2 separate regions of the Homo sapiens genome follow, and region 2 is linked to region 1. The links come from fine-mapping of genetic effects on gene expression. A gene starts in region 1. The other region holds a variant in brackets. All regions are shown on one strand. Distances are between the middles of the regions.

Evidence for each region. PIP is the estimated chance that this variant, and not a neighbour inherited with it, causes the effect.
Region 2: its variant is fine-mapped to the expression of LETMD1 in whole blood (TOPMed, PIP 0.95).

What each region holds. Positions count from the first base shown.
Region 1 is chr12:51,042,838-51,052,536 of GRCh38, reverse strand. It overlaps LETMD1 (LETM1 domain containing 1), which reads right to left and starts at 4,210. Exons shown (of 9, transcript NM_015416.5): 1 at 4,059-4,210; 2 at 3,352-3,503; 3 at 330-445. The coding sequence starts at 4,180. RefSeq lists enhancers at 3,427-3,965, 4,166-4,215, 3,966-4,504, 4,326-4,595, 4,686-4,765 and 1 more.
Region 2 is chr12:51,292,798-51,300,797 of GRCh38, reverse strand. It overlaps BIN2 (bridging integrator 2), which reads left to right. Exons shown (of 13, transcript NM_016293.4): 6 at 1,084-1,191; 7 at 1,510-1,595; 8 at 3,634-3,709; 9 at 4,920-5,002. Among named protein-coding and RNA genes, the nearest start is that of SMAGP, 26 kb to the right of the region's middle. The variant T/C (reference allele first, on the strand shown) is at 3,433.

The sequences.
Region 1 (9,699 bases):
TGCTGGGATTACAGGCGTGAGCCACCGCGCCCAGCCCCCTTGCAGACTTTTGTTATGTTCAGAAACTAATTAGATTTTAGTATTTACAACTTTCATTCAGAAAGTGTGCCAGAAATTCTATGGAGCTCTTGCTATGGAGGGCTACAACTCTGGATGAACCCAATTCTTACAAATAATCTGATGCCTCATTCAGTTCAATATTTTGTTCTCACGGCAAAGGGCAAAAGCTTGATCAATGGTGAACAACAAATGAAAGAAAAAACCTTGAGATCTTGATTAAATGTAATTACCTCACCATGAACTTCTGGATATCTGCCCCTGGCCCATACCTGTCTCAAATGCTCCATCTCCCGGTATGGAAGTTGATGAAACTTTATATTGTGCTTCCACATATTTGTCTTTATTCTTCTAGCCTTTTTGGCATCAGCCCATAACATCTGCAATCCTGCCTCATTAAAGTAGAGGACAGAGTGTGATGTTATCCCAGTTTAAATCTTAACCACAGCTTCCTACTCCATGTTCAATCACATGCAAACACTCTCACCCCTCCCCAACGATACTCAAAGCTTTAAACTAGGTAACTTGAAACTCCTGAGGTCAACTCGAATCTCTTTTCTCAACATTTTTTCCCCTAGCACATCGCCTCTCTTCTAGCTACATTTGGCTTCTGTAATCTGCTATGGAATGGTCTCCCTCTTCTGTTTCACTGGTCACTCCTTTTTAAAAATCAAGCTCCCTAACTTCAGAAAGTCTTGCTAAATTAACCCTATGTATTCCCCAGCCAGATATTAATTTAATCTCCTTTCTGGAACTTTTTTTTTCTTTTTTTTGAGATGGAATCTCACTTTGTTGCCCAGGCTGGAGTGCAGTGGTGCGATTTCGGCTGACTGCAACCTCCACCTCCCAGGTTTATATAATTCTCCCACCTCAGAATCCCAAGTAGCTAGGATTACAGGCGTGTGCCACCATGCCTGGCTAATTTTTGCATTTTTAGTAGAGATGGGGTTTCACCATGTGGACAGGCTCGTCTTTAACTCCTGACCTCAAGCAATCCACCTGCCTCGGCCTCCCAAAGTGCTGGGATTACAGGCATGAGTCACTGCGCCCGGCCTGGAACACTTATTTTTGTTTTTGAGATGGAGTTTTGCTCTGTCGCCCAGGCTGGAGTGCAGTGGCGCAATCTCGGCTCACTGCAACGTCCACCTCCTGAGTTCAAGCAATTCTCCTGCCTCAGCCTTCCGAGTAGCTGGGATTATAGGTGCCCATCACCACACCTGGCTAATTTTTGTATTTTTAATAGAGACTGGGTTTCACCATGTTGGCCAGGCTGGTCTCAAACTCCTGACCTCATGATCCGCCCGCCTTGGCCTCCCAAAGTGCTAGGATTACAGGCGTGAGCCACCGTGCCCAGCCTGGAACACTTTTTAAAGTAGTTTAGTTCAATATATTTTTATGATTACATTTTAAATTTTCATTTTATGAAAATTCTTGCATCTAATTTTTTTCTTTTCTTTTTTTTTTTGAGATGGGAGTTTCACTGTTGTTGCCCAGGCTGGAGTGCAATGGTGCGATCTTGGCTCACCACAACCTCCGTCTCCCAGGTTCAAGAGATTCTCCTGCCTCAGCCTCCCTAGTAGCTGGGATTACAGGCATGTGCCACTATACCTGGCTGATTTTGTATTTTTAGTAGAGACGGTGCTTCTCTATGTTGGTCAGGCTGGTCTCAAACGCCCGACCTCAGATGATCCGCCCGCCCCGGCCTCCCAAAGTGCTGGGGTTACAGGCATGAGCCACCGCGCCCGGCTTCTTGCATCTATTTCTTTAATGCTTTCATATTTATCAATGATTTACATGTCATTATATGATGTCTCGATTGTCTTCAAAATAATACATAAGGCAAGTATATAAATAGGATTGGCAGCCATGAGTTATGATAATGAAGTGAGGTTAATACATGGAAGTTTGTTACACTACTCTCTCTACATCTGTGTGTGTTTAAAAATTTCCATAATAGTTGGCCGGGCGCGGTGGCTCAAGCCTGTAATCCCAGCACTTTGGGAAGCCGAGGCAGGCGGATCACGAGGTCAGGAGTTAGAGACCAGCCTGGCCAATATGGTGAAACCCCACCTCTACTAAAAATAAAAAAATTAGCCTGGTGTGGTGGCAGGCGCCTGTATTCCCAGCTACTTGGGAGGCTAAGGCAGGAGAATTGCTTGAATCCGGGAAGCAGAGGTTGCAGTGAACCGAGATCATGCCATTGCACTCCAGCCTGGGCGACACGGTGAGACTCAAAAAAAAAAAAAATTCATAATAAAAAGTTTAAAAACAAACACAAATGCTTTCATCCCTTTCTCTCATTTGATCCTATTTATCTACATGAAAACAGAAAAAGCAGCCAATTTTATCTCTACAAATTAAGGATAAGTAATTTTTCAAGTCCATGAAGCTAGTAATAATTATGATAATGTTCAGATTTGACAATGTAGTTTATTATAGTGTTATGATAAAAGCATAGAGCATATTATAGATTTGGTGCAAAAGCAATTGTGGTTTTTGCCACTGAAAGCCAAAAGCCGCAATTACTTTTGCACCAACTTATAATACTGTTAGGTAACATTTAGATGAAAATAAGTTAACATTTACTTGGCACTTACTAGGGATCAGGACCTGTTCTAGGTACTTTACATGTATCAATTTTTAAAGTCTTCACAATCATGTGATAAATAGGTAGGTTCCATTACTCCCATTTTACACATAAGAAAACCAAGGAAAGAGGGGTTAATTAATTAGTCCAATCGCACAGTGACGAACTGGGATTTGAATCAGGCAATCTGGCTCCAGAGTAGACACTTGACACGATACATATCTTCTCCTAGTAACTAAGGATCTCTGATTTGAAACAAAACATTTAGAAACCAAGTATTATGTAGGGCTATTGCCACTACAACATACTACCTAATATAGATTCATAACAAGGGTTAGACCTCATTTTCCTATGGGTAAGTCAACTGATACATCACAGGGCAGGTCTATACAGCCACAGATCCCTGCCGTGTGCAAGGCAAAAAATTTCTACTATAGCCAGGTGTGTGGTTAAGAAAGTACGAGAACATACCTATATTCTCCCTCCCTCATGTTGCTGTCATAAGTTGTTTCTCATAACATCTTTCTAGAAACATTCTCAAGAAGTGCTAATTTATAGGAATTAGTTTAAGGCGCAGGCATTTATGAAATATAAGATATCTCGGCTCACATCCCCATAGCAGAACCTGCAAATGATCTTATTTATGCTAACTCTTTGACCCTGCCCAAGAGCTGATTCCGGAATTTCTATTGTAGTTTCGTTTTTACCTTTCATGAAGATTGTGTACAGGACATAGAAGCGGGGGAAATGACGACCCAAGAAACGATGGTATTTCCCATTAATCGCTTTTGTCTTGGTTACCACATAAGACATCAAGTTCTTCACATCTGCCTTTGGAGAAAGGTGAAGCTTTGAAGACCTACAAGGAAGATCAAAGAGACTATCTGGGAATCAGTCCTAGAAGCTCCCTCACGCCTTGAGTCCCTAATGTAAAGCAGGAGTCTCGGAGATTGTATCCCAAGGCTTGACACTTCTGAAATCCAAGGAAGGTCTTGGGGTCAAGAAGAGATAGGCAATCAGACTGTGAAACACAAATCAGGCAAAGGCCAGGCAGGAAAGTAACTCAGGGTATGCCTCTGGAGAGAGCGCAATGCCTGTGGGACAATTTGAACTGCAGGCTAAGTCAGAAAGAGGTGGAATCGAGATAGCAGCGGTAAAACCTGAGCCGAAAAAGTGAGGCTGAAAGATGAGCTCAGGACACGCGGGGAAACCAGACAATATGGGGCACTGAGAGTACAGAGGGTCAGGAAGCCGGGTCACTAGTGGGGATCGGAGTTTGAATCCTGAACAGAAGAATAAAAATTCCAGGGCCAAGGCGTGGAACTCTGAGAATTAAGAGACAGAATGCAAGCAAGGTTGAGACACTGAAAGAGCCTGGACGTCAAAAATGCTTTTCTCGCTACAGGTCCCTCACCGAGGGGCCCCCCAAGCCAGGCCAGAGCGACCAAGTTGCAGCCTCCGGGTGACAAAATGTCCAGGGGTGACTGCCGAGCCCCACACAGCCGACCGAGCCCAGCACACCCTGGAGAGCGCCATCTTCACAGCGAGAGAAGCGGGAGAGAAGAGGTTGTCTTTGGGTCAAAGTTAACCGTACGTCGCGTTCGTTCGAAGACGCATGCGTCTTTTCTGAGCGCTGATTGGTAGCCATAGCCTGCTTGGCTCCAGCACAAGCCAGGAGAGGGAAGGACTCAAAGACTAAGTGCGGAAGGAGGGCCAGGATTGGACACAGCAGTACTTCCAGGTTTAAAGGCGCCGGAAACAGGGTGTCCCAGAGGGAGCGAGTTCTTATGCCACTGGTGTGGGTTTGCGACGCGGAGGGCACCCTGTCCTTGAGGCGCCCAGTGACCCTCCGCGATTCCTTAGGGCCTCAGGGCTTCCCAGCGCCGCCCTTGCCCTCTGCCTGGACTCGGGGCGTCGGAGCCTCGACTGTTAGGTAGCAGATGTCAGTTTGCCAGTGCCTGGGGCTAGGAGGACCCGCGGCGCCCTCTAATGGTGCCGGCGTGGATAGGCCGGGAACTGTCCACTTTCCAGTCAGTCTGGCGGCGAAGGTTGGAGGCCTGGGAGCGGCCCCTGTGCGGACTGAGTACACTTTTTCCTCTCTTTGTCGTTTCCAGAACTAAGTTTGTGGGAAAATGGTTTTCGTTAAGCACCTACCGAAGACCAAGCTCTGTCTCAACTTAAATGTTACTATTCTGAGAGGATTTCTGTGACCACCCTATCTGAAGCAGTGCCGGCGAAAAGGACACACTTCACACTTATTCTCATGTTACTCTGTTTTGTTTTGTTTTGTTGTTTTGTTTTTGTGACAGTTTTGCTCTGTCGCCCCGGCTGGAGTGCAGTGGCGCGATCTTGGCTCACTGCAGCCTCCGCCTCCCGGGTTCAAGCGATTCTCCTGCCTCAGCCTCCCGAGTATCTGGGATTACAGGCGTCCGCCACCACGCCCGGCTAATTTTTGTATTTTTAGTAGAGACGGGATCTCACTATGTTGGTCAGGCTGGTCTTCAACTCCTGGCCTCAAGTGATCCGCCAGCCTTGGCCTCCCAAAGTGCTGGGATTACAGGCGTGAGCCACTGCACCCGGCCTTGTATTTTCTTTGTAGCATCTGTCACTTACAGTGTTTATGTATTTGTGTCCTTGTTTGACAGCTCCCTGAACTAGAATGAGGGTAAGCATCTTCTCTGCCTTGTTCATTGCTGCACCTCCAACACTAGGTGCCTTACTTAGCACATAGTAGGTGTTCAGTAAACATGTTTGAATAGATTCATACTTGAAACTAAGAAGGATTCCCAGAAGTGGTACTTAACTGCCTCCAAGAATTAACAGTCCTCTTGGATATATATGAATATTTATTCTTCATGGAAGGTGGTAGAGCATCCCATGTGGGTTCCCTGGATATAGGTTCAATCTTGGCATTGACGTTTGTTTTAGTGAATGTTACCTTGGATATGTCACTTTAGCTCTGAGTTTATTTCCCTTATAATAGTACCTACTTTATAAGAAATCTTTGAGGATCCAAAGAGAATACAGCTGTGAAAGCTCCCACATCTGTATAATGCTTTATGGGTCACAGAGCTTTATATTAGCACAGGTTATTAATGACTGTACCACTCGTGCAGTCAGAGGAAAAGTTTTAAAAGATGGCCCTGGATCTTCACAAGTGTTGGGTAGATGGGGTGGACGGGATAGAAAGTTGACTAAGACGGCTGGGCGCCGTGGCTCATGCCTGTAATCCCAGCACTTTGGGAGGCCGAAGCGGGCTGATTACCCGAGGTCAGGAGTTCGAGACCAGCCTGGACAACATGGTGAAACCTCATCTCTACTAAGAATACAAAAATTAGCCGGATGTGGTGGTGGGCGCCTGTAATCCCAGCTACTCGGGAGGCTGAGGCAGGAGAATCGCTTTAACCCAGGAGGCGGAGGTTGAGGTGAGCCAAGATCGCACCACTGCACTCCAGCCTGGGCAACAGAGTGAGACTGTCTCAAAAAAAAAAAAAAAAAAAAAAAAGTTGACTAAGACATGGTCTTCATATTCAGGTAGTTTTTTTTTTTGTTTTTTTTTTTTTTGGAGACAGAGTCTCACTCTGTCACCCAGGCTGGAGTGCAGTGGCGCAATTTCAGCTCACTGCAACCTTCATCTCCCGGATTCAAGTGATTCTCCTGCCTCAGCCTCCCAAGTAGCTGGGTTTACAGGCGCCCGCCACCATGCCCAGACAACTTTTGTATTCTTTTTTTTTTTTTTTGACACGGAGTCTCGCTCTGTTGCCCAGGCTGGAGTGCAGTGGCGCAATCTCGGCTCACTGCAACTTCCGCCTCCCGGATTCACACCATTCTCCTGCATCAGCCTCCCGAGTAGCTGGGACTGCAGGTGCCCACCACCACACCTGGCTAATTTTTTGTATTTTCAGTAGAAACGGGGTTTCACCATGTTAGCCAGGATGGTCTTGATCTCCTGACCTCGTGATCCTCCCACCTCGGCCTCCCAAAGTGCTGGGATTAGAGGTGTGAGCCATCACACCCAGTCCAATTTTTGTATTCTTAGTAGAGACGCGGTTTCACCATGTTGGCCAGGCTAGTCTCGAACTCCTGAACTCAGGTGATCTGCCCACCTCAGCTTCGCAAAGTGCTGGGATTACAGGCGTGAGCCAACGTGCCCAGCCATCTTCAGGTAGCTTCTGAGTCATGTCAACTACTCAAGAATGTTCAGCTCTAAAATTCTGGAACTCTCTTGGAAAGGAGACAAAATCAGAATTTTGTGGAGAAAATAGGAAGGAACTGTGTCTGAAAGGATGGAGTAGAGGGGAAGGCATTTCATGCAATGAAAGAATGTGGCAGGAACACAGGTCATTCCTCAGACTTTTCTTTCTTTCTCTTCCTTCCTTTCCTTCCTTTTCTTTCTTTCCTTCCTCTCTTTCTTTCTCTTTCTCTCTTTCTTTCTTTCATAGGGTCTCGCTGTGTCGCCCAGGCTAGAGTGCAGTGGCCCCATCATGGCTCACTGCAGCCTTGATCTCCTGGGCTCAAGTGGTCCTCTCACCTCAGCCTCCCAAGTAGCTGGGATTACAGGCGCATGCCGCCACGCCCAGCTAATTTTTGTGTTTTTAGTAGAGATAGAGATTTGCCACGTTAGCCAGGCTGATCTTGAACTCCTAGACTCAAGCAATTCCCCTGCCTTGATCTCCCAAAGTGCTGGGATTACAGACTTGAGCCACTGCACCCAGCCCTTTCCTGAGATATTTATTTAGTGTTTAGGCCTCTTCCCCCTTTCCCCCGCTACACACACACACACACACACACACACACACACACACGCGCGTGCACACGCACACACACACACACACACACATGCATCTTGTTGGTTCTATCTTCTAGCTGTTCTTCAATCAGCCAGCTTCCTTCTATCTTCTCTGCCACCACCCTAGGCTAAGCTGCAAGCCTCTGGTCCCCACTTCTACAGCAGCCTCTTTACTGGTTTCCCTGCCATATGTTTTGTCCTCCCTCCAACCAGTTCTCCATGTTGTATGTAACCAGAGAGAGCTTTTAAAATTGCAAATCTAAGCTTGTCATTTCTCTTTATAAAACCTTTCAGGTTTCCGACTGGGCGCGGTGGCTCACGCCTGTAATCCCAGCACTTTGGGAGGCCGAGGCGGGCGAATCACGAGGTCAGGAGATCAAGACCATCCTGGCCAACATGGTGAAACCCCATCTCTTCTAAAAATACAAAAATTAGCCGGGCATGGTGGTGCGTGCCTATAATCCCAGCTGCAGCTACTCAGGAGGCTGAGGCAGGAGAATCACTTTAACTTGGGAGGCGGAGGTTGCAGTGAGCTGAGATCACACCATTGCACTCCAGCCTGGGCAACAGAGTGAGACTGTGTCTCAAAAAACAAACAAACAAAAGGCTGTGGGCTGGGCACAGTGACTCACACCTGTAATCCCAGCACTTTGGGAAGCTGAGGCAGGCAAATCACCTGAGGTCAGGAGTTCAAGACTAGCCTGACCAATATGATGAAACCCCGTCTCTACTAAAAATATAAAACTTAGGCTTGGCGCAGTGGTCCATGCCTGTAATCCCAGCACTTTGGGAGGCCAAGGCAGGTGGATCACCTGAGGTCGGGAGTTCAAGACCAGCCTGACCAACATGGAGAAACCCCGTCTCTACTAAAAATACAAAATTAGCCAGACTTGGTGGCGTATACCAGTAATCCCAACTACTCAGGAGGCCAAGGGAGAAGAATCGCTTGAACCCGGGAGGCGGAGGTTGTGGTGAGCTGAGATTGCGCCACTGCACTCCAGCCTGGGCAACAAGAACGGAACTCCATCTCAAAAAGAAAAAAAAAAACAAAAATTAGCTGGGCATGGTGACATACACCTGTAATCCCAGCTATTCAGGAGGCTGAGAGAGGAAAATTGCTTGAACCCGGGAGGCAGAGGTTGCGGTGAGCCGAGATCACGCCATTGCCTCCAGCCTGAGCAACAAGAGCGAAACTCTGTCTCAAAAAAAAAAAAAAAAAGAAAAACCAAGCTGTGCCACAACCACCTTGGGCACGTGTCATCAGGACCTCCTAAGGCTGTGTCATGTCCTTGACCTTGGCAAAATAAACTTTCTAAATTGATTGAGACCTGTCTCAGATATTTTGGGTTCACATAGGTGTGAGTCACTAAGCCAGACCTAGCTCCACTTTATACATGAGGAAAATGAGGTTCAATAATCTGCTCAAGATTGAGTCAGAATTTGAACCCAGGCAGGCTGGGCATATGAGTTAGTGCTGCACTGTATATAAACAGCTCTGTTACAGGAAACTCTTAACCCCACAGACTGAGGTTCCTGTTACTCACTTTGTAGCTAGCTATACTTATTTTTCATAGTACTTAACATCATAATTAATTAGCTGTGTCATTATACATTTCATGGCTATCTTCCCCACAGGAGTCTAAGCTCACTGTATTCCAGTCCCTGGCACACAAGGGGGGCTTATTAAATATTTATTAAATGAATATGGCCAAGCGCAGTGGCTCATATTTGTAATCCCAGCACTTTGGGAGGCTGAGGAGGATGATCACTTGAGGTCAGGAGTTCGAGACCAGCCTGGGCAAGATAGTGAAACCACGTCTCTACCAAAAATACAAAAATTAGCTGGGCGTGGTGGCACACGCCTGTAATCCCAGCTACTCTGGAGGCTGAAGCAGGAGAATCACTTGAACCCGGGAGGTGGAGGTTGCAGTGAGCTGAGATCATGCCACTGTACTCCAGCCTGGGTGACAGAGTGAGACTTCATCTCAAAAATAAAATAAAAACTACAGAGGCTGAGCACAGTGGCTCATGCCTGTAATCCCAGCACTTTGGGAGGCCAAGGTGGGCGGATCACGAAGTCAGGAGTTTGAGACCAGCCTGACCAACATGGTGAAATCCCGTCTCTACTAAAAATACAAAAATTAGCCAGGCGTGGTGGTGTGCACCTGTAATCCCAGCTACTCAGGAGACTGAGGCAGGAGAATCACTTGAACCCGGGAGGGGGAGGTTGCAGTGAGCCGAGATCATGCCACTGCACTCCAGCCTG
Region 2 (8,000 bases), 250 kb before region 1:
TCTTTGTGCAAACAGAAGTCAAACTACTTCTTATCTTGGATGTTATAGAGAAGCCTCATGGTATTGTATGGGAAATTGGACCAGATAATTGCTAAGATCTTTTCAAATTCTGTGACTGAGAGAATGAAACGGTTCAAAGACATAGTTTGCTTCTCACTGGTATAATTTATAGTTTGGATAAGGCTGAGTAGACTTTCTCTCAGTGGTCATAGTAATTTATAGCTTTTATTGTGTTTTAGAGCTTTCAAAGCACTTTGTATTCAGCATTCACTCTTTCAAATAACAGTTGTATAAGGGGAGATGGGGCTACTGAGGCTCCAAAAGAGATGTGCCTTGCCACTGGCCACAGGCTATGAATGGCAGATTTGGGACTAATTCCCAAAAATCCAGACTTTCACTTTCATGTGATTCTCAAGGCCATTTCTCCTGGAGGCTGAACCAGTTTATAATGGGTTCATAGGAAATATTAAAATTTAATACAGCGGGAGGTGGAGGTGGAAATATATATATGTATTTAATTATATATCTATTACATATATATAATTAATACAGATTTCCACATGCTCTGTAGGACTCTATCTCCCTCTGAGACTCCCCCATTCTTCCCAGATACTGAGGGAGACCCCATGGGCGCAAAACCCTATTAGAAAGTGAAATTTGGGCCAGGTGCGGTTGCTCCTGCCTGTAATCCCAGCACTTTGGGAGGCCGAGGTGGGCATATCACATGAGCCCAGGAGTTCGAGACCAGCCTGGCTAAGATGGCAAAACCCCATCTCTACTAAAAATGCAAAAATTAGCCGGGCTTGGTGCACATGCCTATAATTCCAGCTACCTGGGAGGCCGAAGCACAAAAATTGCTTGAATCTGGGAGGCAGAGGTTACAGTGAGCTGAGATCGCACAACTGCACTCCAGCCTGGGCAACAGAGCAAGACCCTGTCTCAAAAAAAACAAAAGCAAAAAACAACGAAAGTGAAATTTGATAGTAGGATGCAAGAATCTTGCTCTCTGTTTGGTATTCTGTTACCTACATCCTGGCCACTAAAAAGTGAGTATCCACACCCTTTCTCATTACCCTGGGTCAGGAGAGAATTGCCAAGCGGGGTCGGAAACTCGTGGACTATGACAGTGCCCGACACCACCTGGAGGCAGTGCAGAATGCCAAGAAGAAAGATGAGGCCAAGACTGCCAAGGTAAAACAAAAACAACAACAAAAACTGGTAAACCCTTCCTGTTCTCCTTCTCCCCATGGTGGTAGCAGGTGGCTGGGCCAACATGGGTATAGGAAATTATAAATTCAGCATCCAGTGTCCTAAAGGAAATCTGTTTCTTCTGACACTGATGCTGTAAGGATAGTCAGAGTCTTGAGGCTGGGGAGGGCATGGTCAGGGGAAGAAGAGGGATGGCTCCTAAAAAGCCTAGTGCCTAAAAAAATGCAGAGGATGAAGGAGGCATGCTGTAGTACTGGGTTCAGAATTGAGGGAGATTGTCTTGTCTCTTTTACCACCTAGGCAGAGGAAGAGTTCAACAAAGCCCAGACTGTGTTTGAAGATCTGAACCAAGAACTACTAGAGGAGCTGCCTATTCTTTATAATAGGTAATGACTGAAATTCAGAAAAGGTGCCTTTGCTTCACACAAGGCACCTTGTGTGCCTTGACAGTAAGTAGATAAAAGTGTTTTAGATTTAAATTCCCACACTGCCCCGCCCCCTTTTTTTTTTTTTCGAGACAGGGTCTCACTCTGTCACCCAGGCTAGAGTGCAGTAGCACTCAATCTCAGCTCACTGCAACCTCCACCTCCCTAGTTCAAGTGATTGTTGTGCTTCAGCCACCCGAGTACCTGGGATTACAGGCATGTGCCACCATGCCTGGCTAATTTTTTTTTGTATTTTTAGTAGAGATGGGGTTTCACCATGTTGCCCAGGCTGGTCTCGAACTCCTGGCTTCAAGTGATCCCCCTGCCTTGGCCTCCCAAAGTTCTGGGATTACAGGCGTGAGCCACCATGCCCAGCCAGATTTTCCACATTTAAAGAGAAATCTAAGCAGAAACTCCATTTGTATCCTTTTTTCTTTTTATTGTACAAGAGATGCATTAATAGAATTATGGTCAGAATATTTTATATTGTCACTTATTAGTGTACATAGGATGGAGCCTTTTTAATGAACACATGTATTCTAAAACATTATGTGACTCCTAATTAAAATGAAATTGAAATTTTATTTTTTATTTTATTTTATTAATTAATTAATTTATTTATTTTGAGACAGGGTCTCATTCTGTCACCCAGGCTGGAGTGTGGCTCACTGTAACCTATGCCTCCCGGGTTCAAGCAATTCTCCCACCTCAGCTTCCTGAGTAGCTGGGACTACAGGCACGTGCCACCACACCTGACTAATTTTTGTTTTTGTTTGTTTGTTTGTTTTGTTTTGAGACAGAGTCTCACTCTGTTGCCAGGCTGGAGTGCAGTGGCACAATCTCGGCTCGCTGCAACCTCCACCTCCCGGATTCAAGCGATTCTCCTGCCTCAGCCTCCCAAGTAGCTGGGACTACAGGCGCGTGCCACTAAGTCCAGCTAAGTTTTTGTATTTTAGTAGAGATGGGGTTTCACCATGTTGGCCAGGATGGTCTCAATCTCCTGACCTTGTGATCCGCCTACCTCAGCCTCCCAAAGTGCTGGGATTACACGCGTGAGCCACCGTGCCTGGCCATTTTTGTATTTTTTGACAGGTTTCACCCTGTTGGACAGGCTGGTCTCAAACTCCTGACCTCAGGTGATCTACCTGCCCCAGCCTCCCAAAGTGCTGGGATTACAGGCATGAGCCACCGTGCCTGGCCTAGAAATGAAATTTAATACAGTTTCTTTAAAAGTATACCTCCTTGATTCACTTACAGGAGAATTCCATTAATGTACATACAGGCGCAGAAGTCATCCTGTATTGCATAAAGGGAAAGAATAATTACTTACTGTAATAGTTATAATTAGATAGCCTTATATTTATATAGCCCTTTAAAAAATTATTCAAAGCCCTTTTATGTCTCCTCAGCCCTTCAAGAGCCCAAATCAGATAACTCCATGAAACTGTTAAACTTTGGTGTCAGCCTGAGCTGATATTGTCTCCCCTGGCCTTCCTGCTCCTAAGAATCACGTGTGTTCCTGGCCCAGCTCTGACGAATCCAGATCCCAGAACATCCTGAGTGTGGGATGTGGGATGGCTTTCTTTTTTTATTTTTTAAAATAGAGTCTCGCTCTGTCGCCCAGGCTGGAGTGCAGTGGCACGATCTCGGCTCACTGCAACCTCTGCCTACCAGGTTCAAGCGACTCTTTTGCCTCAGCCTCCTGAGTAGCTGGGACTACAGGCTCATGCCACCACGCCCGGCTAATTTTTTTTTTTTTTAGTAGAGACGGGTTTTACCATGTTAGCCAGGATGGTCT[T/C]GATCTCCTGACTTCATGATACGCCCACCTTGGCCTCCCAAAGTGCTGGGATTACAGGCGTGAGCCACTGTGCCCAGCGGGATGGCTTTCATTTAGGAGCCTTGGTGGCTGGTTTTGGCTTAAGTCCTACTTTGTATTTCAAACAAAGAACTCCTTTCCCATGCCTTACTCGTATGTGTTTGTGGTTTTGCTTCCTAATAGTCGTATTGGCTGCTATGTGACCATCTTCCAAAACATTTCCAACTTGAGGGATGTCTTCTACAGGGAAATGAGCAAGGTGAGAGGTGTCTGGCCAATTGAGGCTCCTAGGTGTGTTTTCTAGTAAATATGAAGGTAGCCTTGACTTACATGATTTCTTTAAATATCCGTATTGGCACCACAGATTTTGGCTTTTCTCTCATGATGAAATAAGAGCACTTGATTGTGTACTTAACTGTATTGAAACACATATATACACTATCCGAGGGCCCTCTTCATCTCCCTTAACAACTGAGTAAGTGTGTCCAAATTTGAGCTTTAGCATGAATAAAGGAGGTTAGGCCTATAGAAGGAAAAATTAAAATGGGGAACCCCATTGTGAAATATCTATCTATTGTTGCTGGGGACTGGAGAGGGCAGTGTTTAAGGACAAGTCAGTTTCTCAGGTGGTTGGTCTCAAATAAGACTAATCCTGTCAGTGACAGGCAGCCATATAACATAATTTATGAAGTCTTTTCTAGTCCTGGGATTCCAAGATTCTTTGCTACTACAACATTTATATTAGTTATATTCACAAACAGCTATACATACTACTCTCCATAGTTTATTTGGCTAAAGTATGATTTGCCTAGTTAATATTAAAAATGAGGTTTTTTGGTTTTTTTTTTTTTGAGACGGAGTCTTGCTCTGGCACCTAGGCTGGAGTGCAGTGGCGCAATCTCTGCTCACTGCAAGCTCTGCCTCCCAGGTTCACGCCATTCTCCTGCCTCAGCCTCCCGAGTAGCTGGGACTACAGGTGCCCACCACCACGCCCAGCTAATTTTTTTGTATTTTTAGTAGAGACAGGGTTTCACCATGTTAGCCAGGATGGTCTCGATCTCCTGACCTCGTGATCCGCCCACCTCGGCCTCCCAAAGTGCTGGGATTACAGGCATGAGCCTGTAAAATGAGTTTTACATTTTTAGGCGCCTGGCCTAAAAATGAGTTTTCATTCCCTGGATCACCTGTGAGAAGCTAGAACCTCAAATCAGACATCAGTTATGGACCCTGCCTTGAGACAGCTGCCAGTCTGATGGAAGAGGCAGAACTTAGAACACAGAGAGACAGGGAAGAGGGGGTGGCGGGACAGGACCCTGGACTCTAATGCTAGACAGATGAAGAGGAATTCACATCAGAATTGAAAGGGGGAGGTTTTATTTTGGGAAGCTGTCTGAAGGGGAGGGGAGAAGGGATATGCCACTCTCGGGTTCCCAGTTGGCTAGCATCCCCTTCTTTCTTATTGGCTCTAGCTGAACCACAATCTCTACGAGGTGATGAGCAAACTGGAGAAGCAACATTCCAATAAAGTCTTTGTGGTGAAGGGACTGTCAAGGTGAGCAGCATCCAAGACTTTTTTGCTTCGCTTGTCCTGTGTGTGAATGTATTCAACATCCTCATCTCCAGTCCAGAATCCTGACCTGTCCCTTATGTGCATGTGCGTGATGATGTTTGTTGTTTGTACTATGCTCCTATATAAATTATTTTGCTTTTTACTAAATATATATATATATATATATATATATATATATATATATATATATATATATATATTTTTTTTTTTTTTTTGAGACGGAGTCTCACTCTGTCGCCCAGGCTGGAGCGCAGTGGCGCGATCTAGGCTCACTGCAAGCTCCGCCTCCCGGGTTCATGCCATTCTCCTGCCTCAGCCTCCTGAGTAGCTGGGACTACAGGCGCCCGCCATCACGCCCGGCTCATTTTTTTTTTTTTTTTTTTTTGTATTTTTAGTAGAGATGGCGTTTCACCGTGTTATCCAGGATGGTCTCAATCTCCTGACCTCGTGATCCGCCCGCCTCGGCCTCACAAAGTGCTGGGATTACAGGCGTGAGCCACCGCGCCCGGCCACTTTTTACTGAATATTTCAAGGCCAGACAATGGTGGCTCATGCCTATAATCCCAGTACTTTGGGAGGCTGAGGCAGGAGAATTACTTGAGATCAGGAGTTTGAAACCAGTCTGGGCAACATAGTGAAATCTCATCTCTACAAAAAAAGATTAAAAGAAAAAAAAAATTAGCCGGGCAAGGTGGTGCGTAACTGTACTCCTAGCTACTCAGGAGGCTGAAGCAGGAGGATCACTTGAGTGCAGGAGTTTGAGGGTGCAGTGAGCTATGATCATGCCACTGCACTCCAGCCTGGATGACAGAGCAAGACCCTGTCTCTAAAAAAATTAATAAAAATTAAATATTTTAGACATAACCGAACGTATAAAGAATAATACAACAAATAGCCATGTACCTACCATCAAATTTAAGAACTTGGCTGTTGTAAATATAGCTGAAGTTCCCAATGTTCCTTCCCCACTCACTTTTTCTTTCTGACCCCACTAAAGGTAACCGCTATGTTACATTTAGTATTTATCATTTCTATGTGTGTTGTTTTATGTGTGCATGTATGTTTCACACATAAAATAATACGCATGGAAATAAATACTAAATGTAATACTAAATGTAACATGCACACACTGTATTGTTTCACACATACATGCACACATAAAATATTGTTTTGCATGTTTTTGGGGGGTTTTTTTTGTTTTTTTTTTTTTTGAGACAGGGTCTTGCTCTGTCACCCAGGCTGGAGTGCAATGGCACAATCTTGGCTTACTGCAACCTCTGCTTCCCGGGTTCAAGCAATTCTCCTGCCTCAGCCTCCAGAGTAGCTGGGATTACAGGCACATGCCACCACACCCGGCTAATTTTTGTATTTTTAGTAGAGACGCGGTTTCACCATACTGGCCAGGCTGGTCTTGAACTTCTGACCTCGTGATCCGCCCGCCTTGGCCTCCCAGAGTGCTGGGATTACCGGTGTGAGCCACCACGCCCGGCTGTTTTGCATGTTTTTAAACTTTATATAAATGGACTTATACTGTATGTATTGTTCTGCAACTTCTTTTGTTCTCTTAGTGTTGTTTGTAAGATTTTTTGTTATTGCTACATGTTGTTATAATAGCTCTGCTGTTTCCTTTCTATAGTTGTTACTGTATGCCTACTTCATGATTTATTTATCCTCCTGCTAGTTTGGGGCATTTGAGTTGTCTTCTAGGTTTTTGCTATTATAAATAATGTTGTGATGAACATGTTTTACATTTGTCCCTGTGAATATTATCAAGAGTTTCTTTAGGGTCTATACTTGGAGCAGGATTGTTGAGTCATAAGGTCTGTCATGGGGCTTCTTGACCCTTAATGAGATATTTCCATATTGCTCTGCAAGGTGATAATTCCAGTTTACCACCCATCAGCAGTGAGTAAGAGCCCTCATGAGTCCACATTCTCACTACATGTGAAATTGTCAGACTTATTCATTCTTACAAGCTCATGAGTATAAAATGGAATTTTTTTGCAGTTTTAAATCATAGCTTCATAATTGCTAGTTTCCTTGAGCATCTTTTCATGTTATTGGCCATTTAAGGTTCCTGTTCTGTGACTTTCCTATATATCGTTTTCCCATTTTTCAATTGGGTTGTTGACCTTTTTTAAAAAAATCGATCTATGTAAGTTTTTGTGCCAGGCACGATGGCTCACGCCTGTAATCCCAGCACTTTGGGAGGCCGAGGCAGGTGGATCACGGGGTCAAGAGATCGAGACCATCCTGGCTAACACAGTGAAACCCCATCTCTACTAAAAATACAAAAAAAAATTAGCTGGGCATGGTGGCGGGCGCCTGTAGTCCCAGCTACTCGGGAGGCTGAGGCAGGAGAATGGCATGAACCCGGGAGTCAGAGCTTGCAGTGAGCCGAGATCGCGCCACTGCACTCCCGCCTGGGCGACAGAGCGAGACTCCATCTCAAAAAAAATAAAAAAATAAATAAAAATAAGGTGGTTTTTTTTTGGCTGATATATTCTAGATTCTAATCTTGGATGCTCAAGGATAAGCATGGCATCCAGCACATAGCAGCTACTTGATAGATGTTATAGTTGATTCTTGTTGTTCATGGTAGTTTTGTTTTATAAAGTTGCCATACTCACTGAACATCAAAACACAGGTTTCTGTGAGCCCCTGGTCACAACATTTTCATCAACCACCCAACATATAACCTTGTTTTATGTGAGTTTCTGTTTAAAGATACCTTATTTAATATATATTATTAATTTATTAATATTGAACTCACAACCAGCAGCATTGTAACTCATGCCTGAATGAAGCTTACCTAATAATACATGTATTTTCTCTGGAAGGCACATCACAGTCTTTTTGCACTTAGCACTACAGCTTGGGGGCCATTTAAAGTAGCAAAATCACCAGCAAAAAGCACAAAGTTAGGAAAACATGGTGGAAAGGACATTTGTTTACAGTTTGAGAACGGAAGCAAGAAGGT